3 linked regions of the Homo sapiens genome follow. The protein of the gene in region 3 purifies or fractionates together with the protein of the main gene of each other region. This does not show direct contact. Each region holds a gene or a part of one and is shown on either strand. Other genes may lie near its edges. The genes, in order: DNAJC18, ACAA2 and SLC9C2.

The links.
Region 1: the proteins of SLC9C2 (region 3) and DNAJC18 purify together in Homo sapiens (affinity purification with mass spectrometry; one large-scale study listed by BioGRID and IntAct). This does not show direct contact.
Region 2: the proteins of SLC9C2 (region 3) and ACAA2 purify together in Homo sapiens (affinity purification with mass spectrometry; one large-scale study listed by BioGRID and IntAct). This does not show direct contact.

The regions. Positions count from the first base shown.
Region 1 is NC_000005.10:139,409,666-139,412,734, forward strand, and holds the end of DNAJC18 (dnaJ homolog subfamily C member 18), read right to left. Parts: 3' UTR 538-3,069; downstream 1-537.
Region 2 is NC_000018.10:49,803,487-49,807,143, forward strand, and holds part of ACAA2 (3-ketoacyl-CoA thiolase, mitochondrial), read right to left. Parts: intron 1-3,657. UniProt on the Homo sapiens protein: In the production of energy from fats, this is one of the enzymes that catalyzes the last step of the mitochondrial beta-oxidation pathway, an aerobic process breaking down fatty acids into acetyl-CoA.
Region 3 is NC_000001.11:173,526,490-173,530,146, reverse strand, and holds part of SLC9C2 (sodium/hydrogen exchanger 11), read left to right. Parts: intron 1-92; coding exon 93-242; intron 243-3,432; coding exon 3,433-3,484; intron 3,485-3,657. UniProt on the Homo sapiens protein: Involved in pH regulation.

The sequences.
Region 1 (3,069 bases), on a different chromosome or scaffold from region 3:
TGGAAAGCCTGGCCTCCCCATTAGATGTGAGCTCCAGGAGTCTTGGTGCTGGGCCTCACCTGTTCCCTGACCCCCATTCCAAAAACCCAGCCCACCTGGCTCAGAGTAAGTTCTCAATCATTGCTGAATTGAATCTCATCTCACTTTCTTTTTCAAATGAAAGCTATCATGACCAGTTAGGATCATGTAAATATCATTTACTATATTTTTAAACCAAAACTTTCCTAAATATGGGCCACTAGGACCAAAGCCAGCAAGGAACTGGGATAACACCTGAATTTCTGATGCTAAGTGTAGTTTTGATCTGTATATTGGCTGTGAGGTACTGCAGCTGCTGTTATCTGATAGAAAATGTGGAACTGATGCCAACAATGCTATCTACTATTCTAAATGCAAATAATCCCACTGACGGGTGAGGGAAGACTGGAGCAGGCGTCAAAAGCTTCTTTAGTCGGAAGTGGCTCCAAGGGAGTCAGGCGATGTGCAGTGGCCAAGGATGCCATGGGCAAAGGTAAAAGAACCAAGGAAAAGTAGCCATTCTTTTAATATAAAATTGTTTAATGTTTTTCTTTGTTGCAGTACACTCAATCCAGATGTAGTGGATGAGGTGGCCAGATTTTTTCAAGATTCTTAGTCCACCAGGAGCTGATTCCATTTGTGTCATCCCTACTCTGGTCACAGAACATTCACATCTTTAATTCCAAATACTGAGCGTGATGTAAATGATGTAATCAGTATCTAACACGAGTATATACTTTCTTGGTGGCCACTGCATGACATATCAACAGTGCAGCCTCAAAAAAAAGATGTTTTGTAACTTGGCCCTTTCCAAAAATAAATATATTAGGACACTAAGCTTATACCTTAAATGAGGGCAGAATAAATATGAATGAAGTGCAAGCTCCTGTGAGGAGCAGTGCATGCAGATGATGTACTTGCTTGTATGGTGTGGCCAGCTGTAACAGAAAGCCACTGGAACGGCACAGTGCCTCCTCACAAAGCCCATCCTGGGTATCATGAGGAAAAAGAATGACACATAGCTTGGCCAGGCTGCTGGAACCCATGTTCCAGTGGCATCTGGAGTTCACTGTATTTTCTTTTTTCTTTCTTTTTTTTTTTTTGAGACAGAGTCTTGCTCTGTCACCCAGGCTGGAGTGCAATGATGTGATCTCAGCTTACTGCAACCTCTGCCTCCCAGGCTCAAGAGATTCTTCTGCCTCAGCCTCCTGAGGAGCTGGGATTACAGACACGTGCTACCATGCCCGCCTAATTTTTGTATTTTTAGTACAGACAGGGTTTCACCATGTTGGCCAGGCTGGTCTGGAACTCCTGACCTCAAATGATCTGCCTGCCTCAGCCTTTCAAAGTGCTGGGATTACAGGCATGAGCTACTGGGCCTGGCCAGTTCACTGTATTTTCGAACAATTTCCAACAGAAAGCACAGCAGTGACGTTTCCTTACTGGTCACTGCTCCCGTGCTGTGAGGCCTGGAGCTGATCAAGGAAGCTTACACATTTCCCGGCCTGAGCAGATGAACTCTAGGGTTGCTAATCTGGGGACGTGGGTTCCTTCAAGCTCTTTGTGATGAGAAGGATTTTCATCCTCCTTTTCTCACTGCCGATCGTGCGGTAGAGAGAGCATCTTCATTTGAATGAGAGCTTCAGTTTCTGCTTGAGCCTCAAGCCCTATTTCTGAGCGCTGCTCCTCTCACACACGTCTCCAATCTGCAGTAATGCTCAAAGAAACAGTCTAGAGCTGGGTGCCAAGCTCCGGCAGCAAGAATAAGCCCTACCTAGTTATGTATGATCAGGAGATCTTCCAAAGGACGTAGGCGAGAGGAAAAAGCTTATTTTACCACCATGCAGACAACCCATCTAAAATATAACCCAGGAAATTATAGCTTCACAATATTCTGGATAGTATCAAATAGATAAATCCTTCAACCAAAAGCAAATACGGTTCCCTTGAGGAAAAACAGATGTGAATGTTGTGGTCTATTGGCAATAAATAAAACAGTACCATCGGTGCTATAAAAACAGACAATCAGCGTGACATTTAATGGAGTTAGTTATTATTGCTTCTATTTAGTATCATCACAGATTACTTATCGCTGCCATGAAGTCCATAAAATGTGTGACTACCTGATTCCTGGGCATCTAGGACAGGGTCTTTTAACCTGTCAAGTCAGTTTCATTATGGCCAATTTTCTAGCAGTGGTTGGGGATGGGGAGAGGAGAGCTTTGATTTTTTTGTGTGTAGAAGAACTTTCCATAAGCCTGTTTGGCTCATGGACATATTTTACAATGTAACCTCCCTCAGTCACTCAGAGGGGATCAAGAAGGGCCCCCTAAAACCAGGAGGACAGATCTAGTTGGGCAGCAAAATCTGGCTATTTCTAGAAATGCTCCCTCTCCCTGCAACTGAGCAGTTGTCCCCTACAAGCCACTAAAGCCCCCAATCTTTACCTGTGAACCCATCTCCTGACTCTGTGGAATGCCTGCAGAGGCATGGTAGGGAACAACCGTTCAGATGTTGATGAGCCATGCTAGGCACGTCTGTGTAAATCATGGCCATGCATTGGGATGAAGAAACTTTACTTTGGAATCTGTTTAATGTAGACTCTTTTTTTTTTTGAGATGGAGTGGAGTGCAGTGGCGTGATTTCAGCTCACTGTAACCTCCACCTTGCAAGTTGCAGCGATTCTCATGCCTCAGCCTCCCGAGTAGCTGGGACTACAGGCATGTGCCACCACACCTGGCTAATTTTTGTATTATTAGTAGAGATGGGGTTTCACTGTGTTGGCCAGGCTGGTCTTGAACTCCTGACCTCAGGTGATCCACCTGCCACAGCCTCCCAAAGTGCTGGGATTACAGGCTTGAGCCAGTGCACCCGGCCGACTCTCTACCAGAAACTTTTCTTCCAATATGAAGGAAGCATGGAGTGTAGGCTACAGTCACTTAATGATCCTTCCAAGTTCAGAGTCATGATAATTCAGGCAGCTCAGCTCCACAGGAAGGCCCAGAACCACACAGCCCAGGCAGTGACTGAATTCTTCCTAGTCACCAGTGG
Region 2 (3,657 bases), on a different chromosome or scaffold from region 3:
CTCGGCTCTTAAGACGCAAGTTGGTGGATGCTCCAAGCCAAATAAAGCCTCTTCCTTCTTTAATCCAGTGTCTGAGGAGTTTTGACTGTGGCTCGTCCTGCTACACTGTGATGTAAAGCCATTCTGGTTAGACAACTTTCTTGTTCTCTGATGCTTCACAATGCTAGAAACATATGTTGAGAACTAAAATCCTTCTTCTATGTGCTGGAGTATATTGCCTAGTATTAGAATAAAAGAATCTCCAAACTAGAAGGTGCCTTAGGGTTGTCTGAGGTCAACCACTCACTCTATAAGAACTACCTCTAAAAATTCCTGACAAAAGGTTCTCTCTAAACCTCTGCCAGGAAACTTTCAGTAAGAGGGCATACTCTACTGCATGAAACAGTGTGCTGGTCATGGACAACATAAACTAATGATATTGCTTTTTTTTTTTTTTTTTTGGAGACAGAGTTTTGCTCTTGTCGCCCAGGCTGGAGCGCAGTGGCGCGATTTCGGCTCACTGCAACCTCCGCCTCCCGGGTTCAAGTGATTCTCCTGCCTCAGCCTCCCGAGTAGCTGGGACTACAGACACCCACCACCAGGCCCGGCTAATTTTTGTATTTTTAGTAGAGACGGGGTTTCACCATGTTGGCCAGGCTGGTCTTGAACTCCTGACCTCAGGGGATCCACCCACCTCAGCCTCCCAAAGTGCTAGAATTACAGGCGTGAGTCACCCACTCCCGGCCCCAACGAATGATATTTCTTTATATTGAACTAACTCAGCTTACAAAGTCTTCCATCCACCAATTCTAGTTCTCTCCAAAAGCACCAACACAGATAGAGATGTAGTTTCTAGAATATATGCTGCTACCGGTTCTAGAGTCACAGGATGACTCAAGTTACAGACTTCAAATAAATAACCTGAACTATTATCTTTTACTCTTAGAAAAAAAATGGGCAAAACAGGTTACCTTCTACATGTGTATCCCCCACCTCCAGTATCTGAAGTCAGCTAACCTGTAAGTCCCCAAACCTAGTGACTCTCATCTCAGGTAAATTAAAGGCATTCTTTCAATAGTTTTTTATTTGACATTAATTCTGACTGCTTTCCTCTAAAGACACTGTAGTTTGCCAACATCCTATTAAAATGTGTCCCTTAGAATATAAGAATATAACAAAAATAGCATGCATTTTATCTAATCACAAAGAATAGAGGAATTATCTATACATCTACTAATACAAACTAAGACTATAAATTTGCAGCATCACTATTAGTTAAATCGGTGTCCTTGTACAAATAAATAAAAATCACCCCTTCCCAATCACCTACTACCATCTGCCAAAAAAAAACTTGTGACTATACAAATATATGATTATGATGTGAGTGGTACCCACTCATCATCATTAGAGCTGTACAGTGCAAAACCGGCATATCAGTAAGCAGCATCAGTTATAGCCATTTCATCATATTGACATTCATTAGGTGTCTACTAAATACTAGACATTTTATCACTTTCCACACAAAAGCTAATCTTCCCAGCAACTCTGCAAGGTAAATATTATAGCTAACATAGAGGGGACACTTACTATGGAATAGACTTCATGCTAGCACTTTGCATATACTAACTTTATTCTCTCCAAGACAATCTAAGCTCACATTTCCACATCTTGTCAAGAAATTATGGGACTTTCGGCAATGGGTTTGTGATAAGATACTGATCTACAAATGAGACTATTCAAGCATTATACCACTACTGGTATCTAAGTATAATCTTCCAGTTTATGATCTCTTTCATCAAACAAACCAAGCCTAGCCTAAAATATTTCTATTTCAACCTCTCTTTTCATTCCTATTTTGAGAAATTTGCAGTTTAAAGGAATATTAGGAGCAATATATATAACTATAATTTAGAACAGATCCACTCAGTTTTTTACAGATACAAATTCAGATAGTTACAAAAGGCCATAAATACTAGTCGAGTGCATTACAAACGTTTTGTTCTGGTAAATTGGTTATTCTGTACCATGATGCCTTCCTGAATCTTTTCAAGTTTCCTTTCATCCTCCTTCCTTAACAGTCTCTGCCTATTTTTATATCAGTGTTTTCTTTTTTTTTTGAGACAGTCTTGCTCTGTGCCCAGGCTAGAGTGCAGTGATGTGATCACAGCTCCCTGCAGCCTCGACCTCTGCAGCCTCGACTTTCCCAACTCAAGTGATCCCCCTGCCTCAGCCTCCCAAGTAGGTAGGACTACAGGCATGTGCCACCACACCTGGCTAATTTTTACCTTTTTTTCTTTTTTTTTTTTGTAGAGATGGGGTCTTGCTATGTTTCCCAGGCTGGTCTCGAACTCCTGGGCTCAAGCAATCCTCCCACCTTGGCCTCCCAAACTGCTAGGATTATAGGCATGAGCTACTGCACCTGGCCTATCAGTGGTTGCTTTATTTCATTCTTCTTTCCTCTTTCCATGCCTTCTTCCTAATTTCATTAGTTCTGCTTCTGGTCATGGCCTACTATGCTCCTATCTGACCAACCCTCCAACAGATAACAATGAAAAACTCCAGACAATATATAAGAACAACTACTACCTGACGGTCTTGGAAATGAACAAAACTAGACAGGTAAGGAGAAGAGTTGATACTTAGAGGAAGGGAACAGAACAGGGTAAGTGTCCAATTTATTTATAGCAACTAACTTGAAGACTAACAGTCCATGATGCATGGAATGGCTAGAACTCAGAAACAGTCTTACTGGCTTGAAGAATCAGAGAATAAAATTCATGGTAAGCACAGCCACTAGAAAGTGAATGAGAATCTGGGAAAGAGGAGCACCATAGAGCGAGATTCCAAATTTCACATATAAACTCTGCCCAAATATTTGGCTGACTCCTTAGCCATTCATGTGTAGGTCAGACCACAAGCACCTAAGCCAAGCCTTAAAAAACTGAACTTAGATTTAAGCTGCTGCCCACTACAAGGGGAGACATAGTTTATCACGGGGGTGCATGGGGGTGATTTTGTAGGCAAAGTAACTGTCTACAAAAAATAAATAGCCAACCAATCAATAAGTCAGTTCTGTCTGCAGGATTATAACAGAATCCAGTCTCCACAATGTTCCATCTGCAATATTCATAATATAATTCAAAGTTAATCCACATATGAGGAAACAAAAAATATGACAATCAACAGAGACCAATCCCAAGAAGACCCAGACACTGAAATTAGCAGACAAGGATTTTAAAATAGCATTCTATTACAACTATGCTCAAGGATGTAGAGGAAAATATGCTCCTAATAAAACATAGGACATCTCAGTAAAGAAATACATACTATAAAAATCCAAAATGGAAATTCCAAAACTGGAAAATACCTGAAATAAAAAATTCCCTGGATGGGCTTAACAGCAAAATAGAAATGAAAGGAGAAAAATTCAGCGACTTTGAAGATAGATAAATAGAAATTAACCAATCTGAAGAACAGATGAAAAAAAAAAGATTAAAAAACAAAGCCAGAACCTCAAGGTCTGACAAAGGAGGAAAGGCAATTCACTGGAAAAAGGATCGTCTTTCCAACAAACAGTGCTGGAACAACAAAACATCTATATACCAAACAAAATGAATCCAGGCAAAAATGCGTCAACTTTGATAGTGGGCTGGGCACTGTGGCTCAAGCCTATAATCT
Region 3 (3,657 bases):
GTCTGGAGATGACACTTTATGAATTTCTGCCTCAGAGGGTGCTTTTCCTCATCAAATGTACAGGTTTTTTTTTCTTCTTCTCATTATTCCAGATAATAGTACCAATACTGATAAGAATTGCAGATGTGCAGATCAAAAAGCGCCTCAGCTTGATGTATAGTATTACAAAAGGCTATATCAAAAGTCAAGAAGATGCCAAACTTCTAATAAAACAAATAGCTGTCTGTGAATCAATATATCAGGTGAGAAACAAGCACTGGTCATTTGGGGAGAAAAACCCCTTAGGTGTATTAACTTCTTTTAAGACTAGTTCTATGTGTGTTTGACGAAACAGACAAATTCCAACAGTTGAAAGGGATTCAGTTGTTTATTATATCATATGAGGTGCTACAGAGAACAGTCTCTGATCATTACATTTCAGCTGTTATCATCAAACTCATTTATTATCTTCATGGCAGAAAACATATGATCTCTTTTCTGAGTGCAGAGTATAGAGAAGAGATCTAGTATGTCTCTGTAACACTCTCTAAAAGACAGGGCACTTGGAAAGGTGTATGCAGGAGTTGAGACTTGAAAAAGGCTTCAAAGAAAGGGTAAGTCTTAAGTGAAGAGGAAGAGAGGAAAAGAGAACAAAGATTTGATAGTGAAAAGTTGAAATCCTGGTACTGTGGGGTGGGTGAGTAGAAGTATTTATTTTTTATCATTTAAGACCCTCTTCATTTCCAGCCACTATGCTGTAAGTACTAGATGGGAGCCTAGAGGTGGAGTGAATCCTCTCCTAACCAGGCTCCCTCGCACCAGTCTGTCTATTACCAGTCACTCGCAAAAGAGTGGGGAAAGTGGAACGTGACTGCTCTCTCATTCTCATGCTTCTTTGGGCCTGATAATGTAGAGGAGACTCGCATTCTTTAGATAAAAAACTTCCTTATTTTTCACTCATAGCTGTCAACTCTGCTCTTTGCAGTGAGAATCTTTCAATTGATTTTCCAGGTTACAGATTTTTAAATTTCTAGTTGTGTTCTTTCTTCTGTTCAACCCATCTATTAAACTTTTTAATTTTTTTTGACAATTACTTTTTGATCTCCAAAAACTGTGGTTGCTTCCTTTTCATAACAACTGTTTGCTTTAAAAGAATTAACATAATATTATCTAGAATCTTCTTTTCATCTTAAAAGATATTTTGCTTCCTGTGTTAATTCTGCTTCCTTGGGGTTCACTCTCCTATTCATTGTGTTTGGTTTCTATATTTCATTCTGTTTTTGCCCCCAGTGTTTGGTGATTTTGGTTATATTTTCATACGTGTCAATGAGGGGCTAAGGTGAACAGTATCAACAGCTGAAAGGTGTTTTCTCAGCCCAAGTTACACTCTTGATTTTTAACTGGAGATGGATTTAAATCCTGATTACTACAATGATTATGTGTGGATACATAAAACCATGGATGGCCTAGAGGTTATGTCTTCTGGTTACGGTGCCTATTTTTTGTGGTGACGGTTACGTTACCTCAGTCAAGAGAGGCTCTTTACTTATTGAAATAAGAAGAGGAAAAGAGGCTGTGAAGATATCTACCTTTATTGGATTGAACATTAATGTGTAACAGAATTCTGTCCTGTTGCTTTACTTTGAAGAATGGAGAAGAAAATTAAAAGAACTACTCAAAGGCTGGATTGATCTGCATTAGAAAGAACACAGAGCTATTCATAGGAGAAAAGATTTCAGCAGAAGGAGGAAGAGAGAAGAAAAACAAGAGACAGTGGGGGGAGTTAAGAATGTGTTTTCAGGAGTTTGGGAGAAGATGCAGAGATCTGAGGGCAGTTGCCTTGACGTGTCACAGGTGAAGTGAATCCCCTGTGACATTTTGAAAGAAGCACCAGTAAAGATTTAAATGGCCTTTTGAGATGTGTTTAGATGTCTAACTGGTGTTTATTCTGAAACTGACTTGGTTCTGGAAATTGGCCTGTGGCAGCTCACCTTAAGAAAAATAAATGTATGCCCAGGCTTTCATGATTATGCTCTCTTTGTAGGCAGGAGTCAGGTCCCATGCGCTTTTGTGCAAAGGCGTTCTAGAGCAGTCTTACAGGGTTGCTGTAAGTCTAGTTTGGTGTGAAGGGGGCCTAGCTGCTTTCTTTGCACCTATGCAAGCAGGGCTGGGCTAGGATATGTTGGTGCCATGGACAGGCTAGTAATTTGGCACCTTCCCAATATTGATGCAATGTTATCGAGTAAGAAGAAATAATTTAATAAATATTACATACCTTATTCTTATATTCAAAATGAGGGATTCATTACATGCGATTTTTTTCTAAACCAAAACAAAGACAACAAAAAAACCCCACAAAAACTTAACTTTGCTTAAACTTTAGATAACAAACCAGGTGTTCCCTATAAAGAGCACTATGCCATGCATTATTTGGGGCAGAGTTTCAGACATCTGTACCTGACAACCCTAAAGAACTGTCAGTTGTGTGATTCCAGGACTGTTGGTGTAGCCAAGTGCAAACTCCCCAGTGACTCAAAGCTGGAGGGTAAGCTTTAAGAGGAAAAGTGCCTGGGACATAGTGGGCATCCAACAAATACCTGTTGTATGATTGATTGAACAGAGATTGGTTAGCCCTGGAGTGCAGTGATTTCTTCAGTTATCTAAGGAGTTATTTGTTAGAAATATGAACTAATCAATATCGTATTTTCTCATTTTTCCACTTCTTTTTGTGCTCCTGATAGGCTGGCTTCCCAACTAGCTGCTCACTTGGCTCACTGCCAAATGAGGCGCTATGAGAATTCTCCTTGGTGCACAGTGGAGTACATACTGATCTTTTCTGATAACTATTAGGCAAGGTAGTTATGCAAGCTACTGACTGTACTAGACTCATTGAGATTGACGTCTGAGCATGGGCAAAGCAGCAGAATTGACCCAGAGGGAAGAAATGAGCCAATAGCTTTTCTAAAACTAGGTGAAATGTCCTCTACCATACTTCCTTTTCTCTGAATTTAAAAGGAAAGCCAGGCTAGGTGTGGTGGCTTATGCCTGTAATCCCAGCACTTTGGGAGGCAGAAGTGAGTAGATCACCTGAGGTCAGGAGTTCAAGACCAGCCTAGCCAACATGGAGAAACCCCATCTCTACTAAAAATACAAAAATCAGCTGGGTGTGGTCGCTCACACTTGTATCCCAGCTACTTGGGAGGCTGAGGCACGAGAATAACTTGAACCCGGGAAGTGGAGGTTGCAGTGAGCTGAGATTGCACCACTGCACTCCAACCTCGGCAACAGAGCAAGACTCTGTCTCAAAAAATAAAAATAAAAGGAAAGCCAGAACTATACTTGGTATAATAAGTATGCTTCTCAGGAATATAAGAAGAAATGCATGTTTTTCTTAATTTCTTACAGAAACTATATGAATAATAAGAAATACATGTTTTTCTTAATTTTTTACAGAAACTATGTGAAATTTTGGAAACCAACAAACAGGATGCTGTCAAAGAATTAGGTAGGTAGTTGAAGTATCTGAGTTCTTAAAGTCATACCTTATTGTCCTATAATTTAATAAAAGAAGAACAATTCATGCTTTCATTTACTTGCTCATTCATTTATGCATTCAACAAGCATTTATTAAACACAGCTAATGGGCCAGGTATGGGAAAGCAAAGATGAGTAGATCCT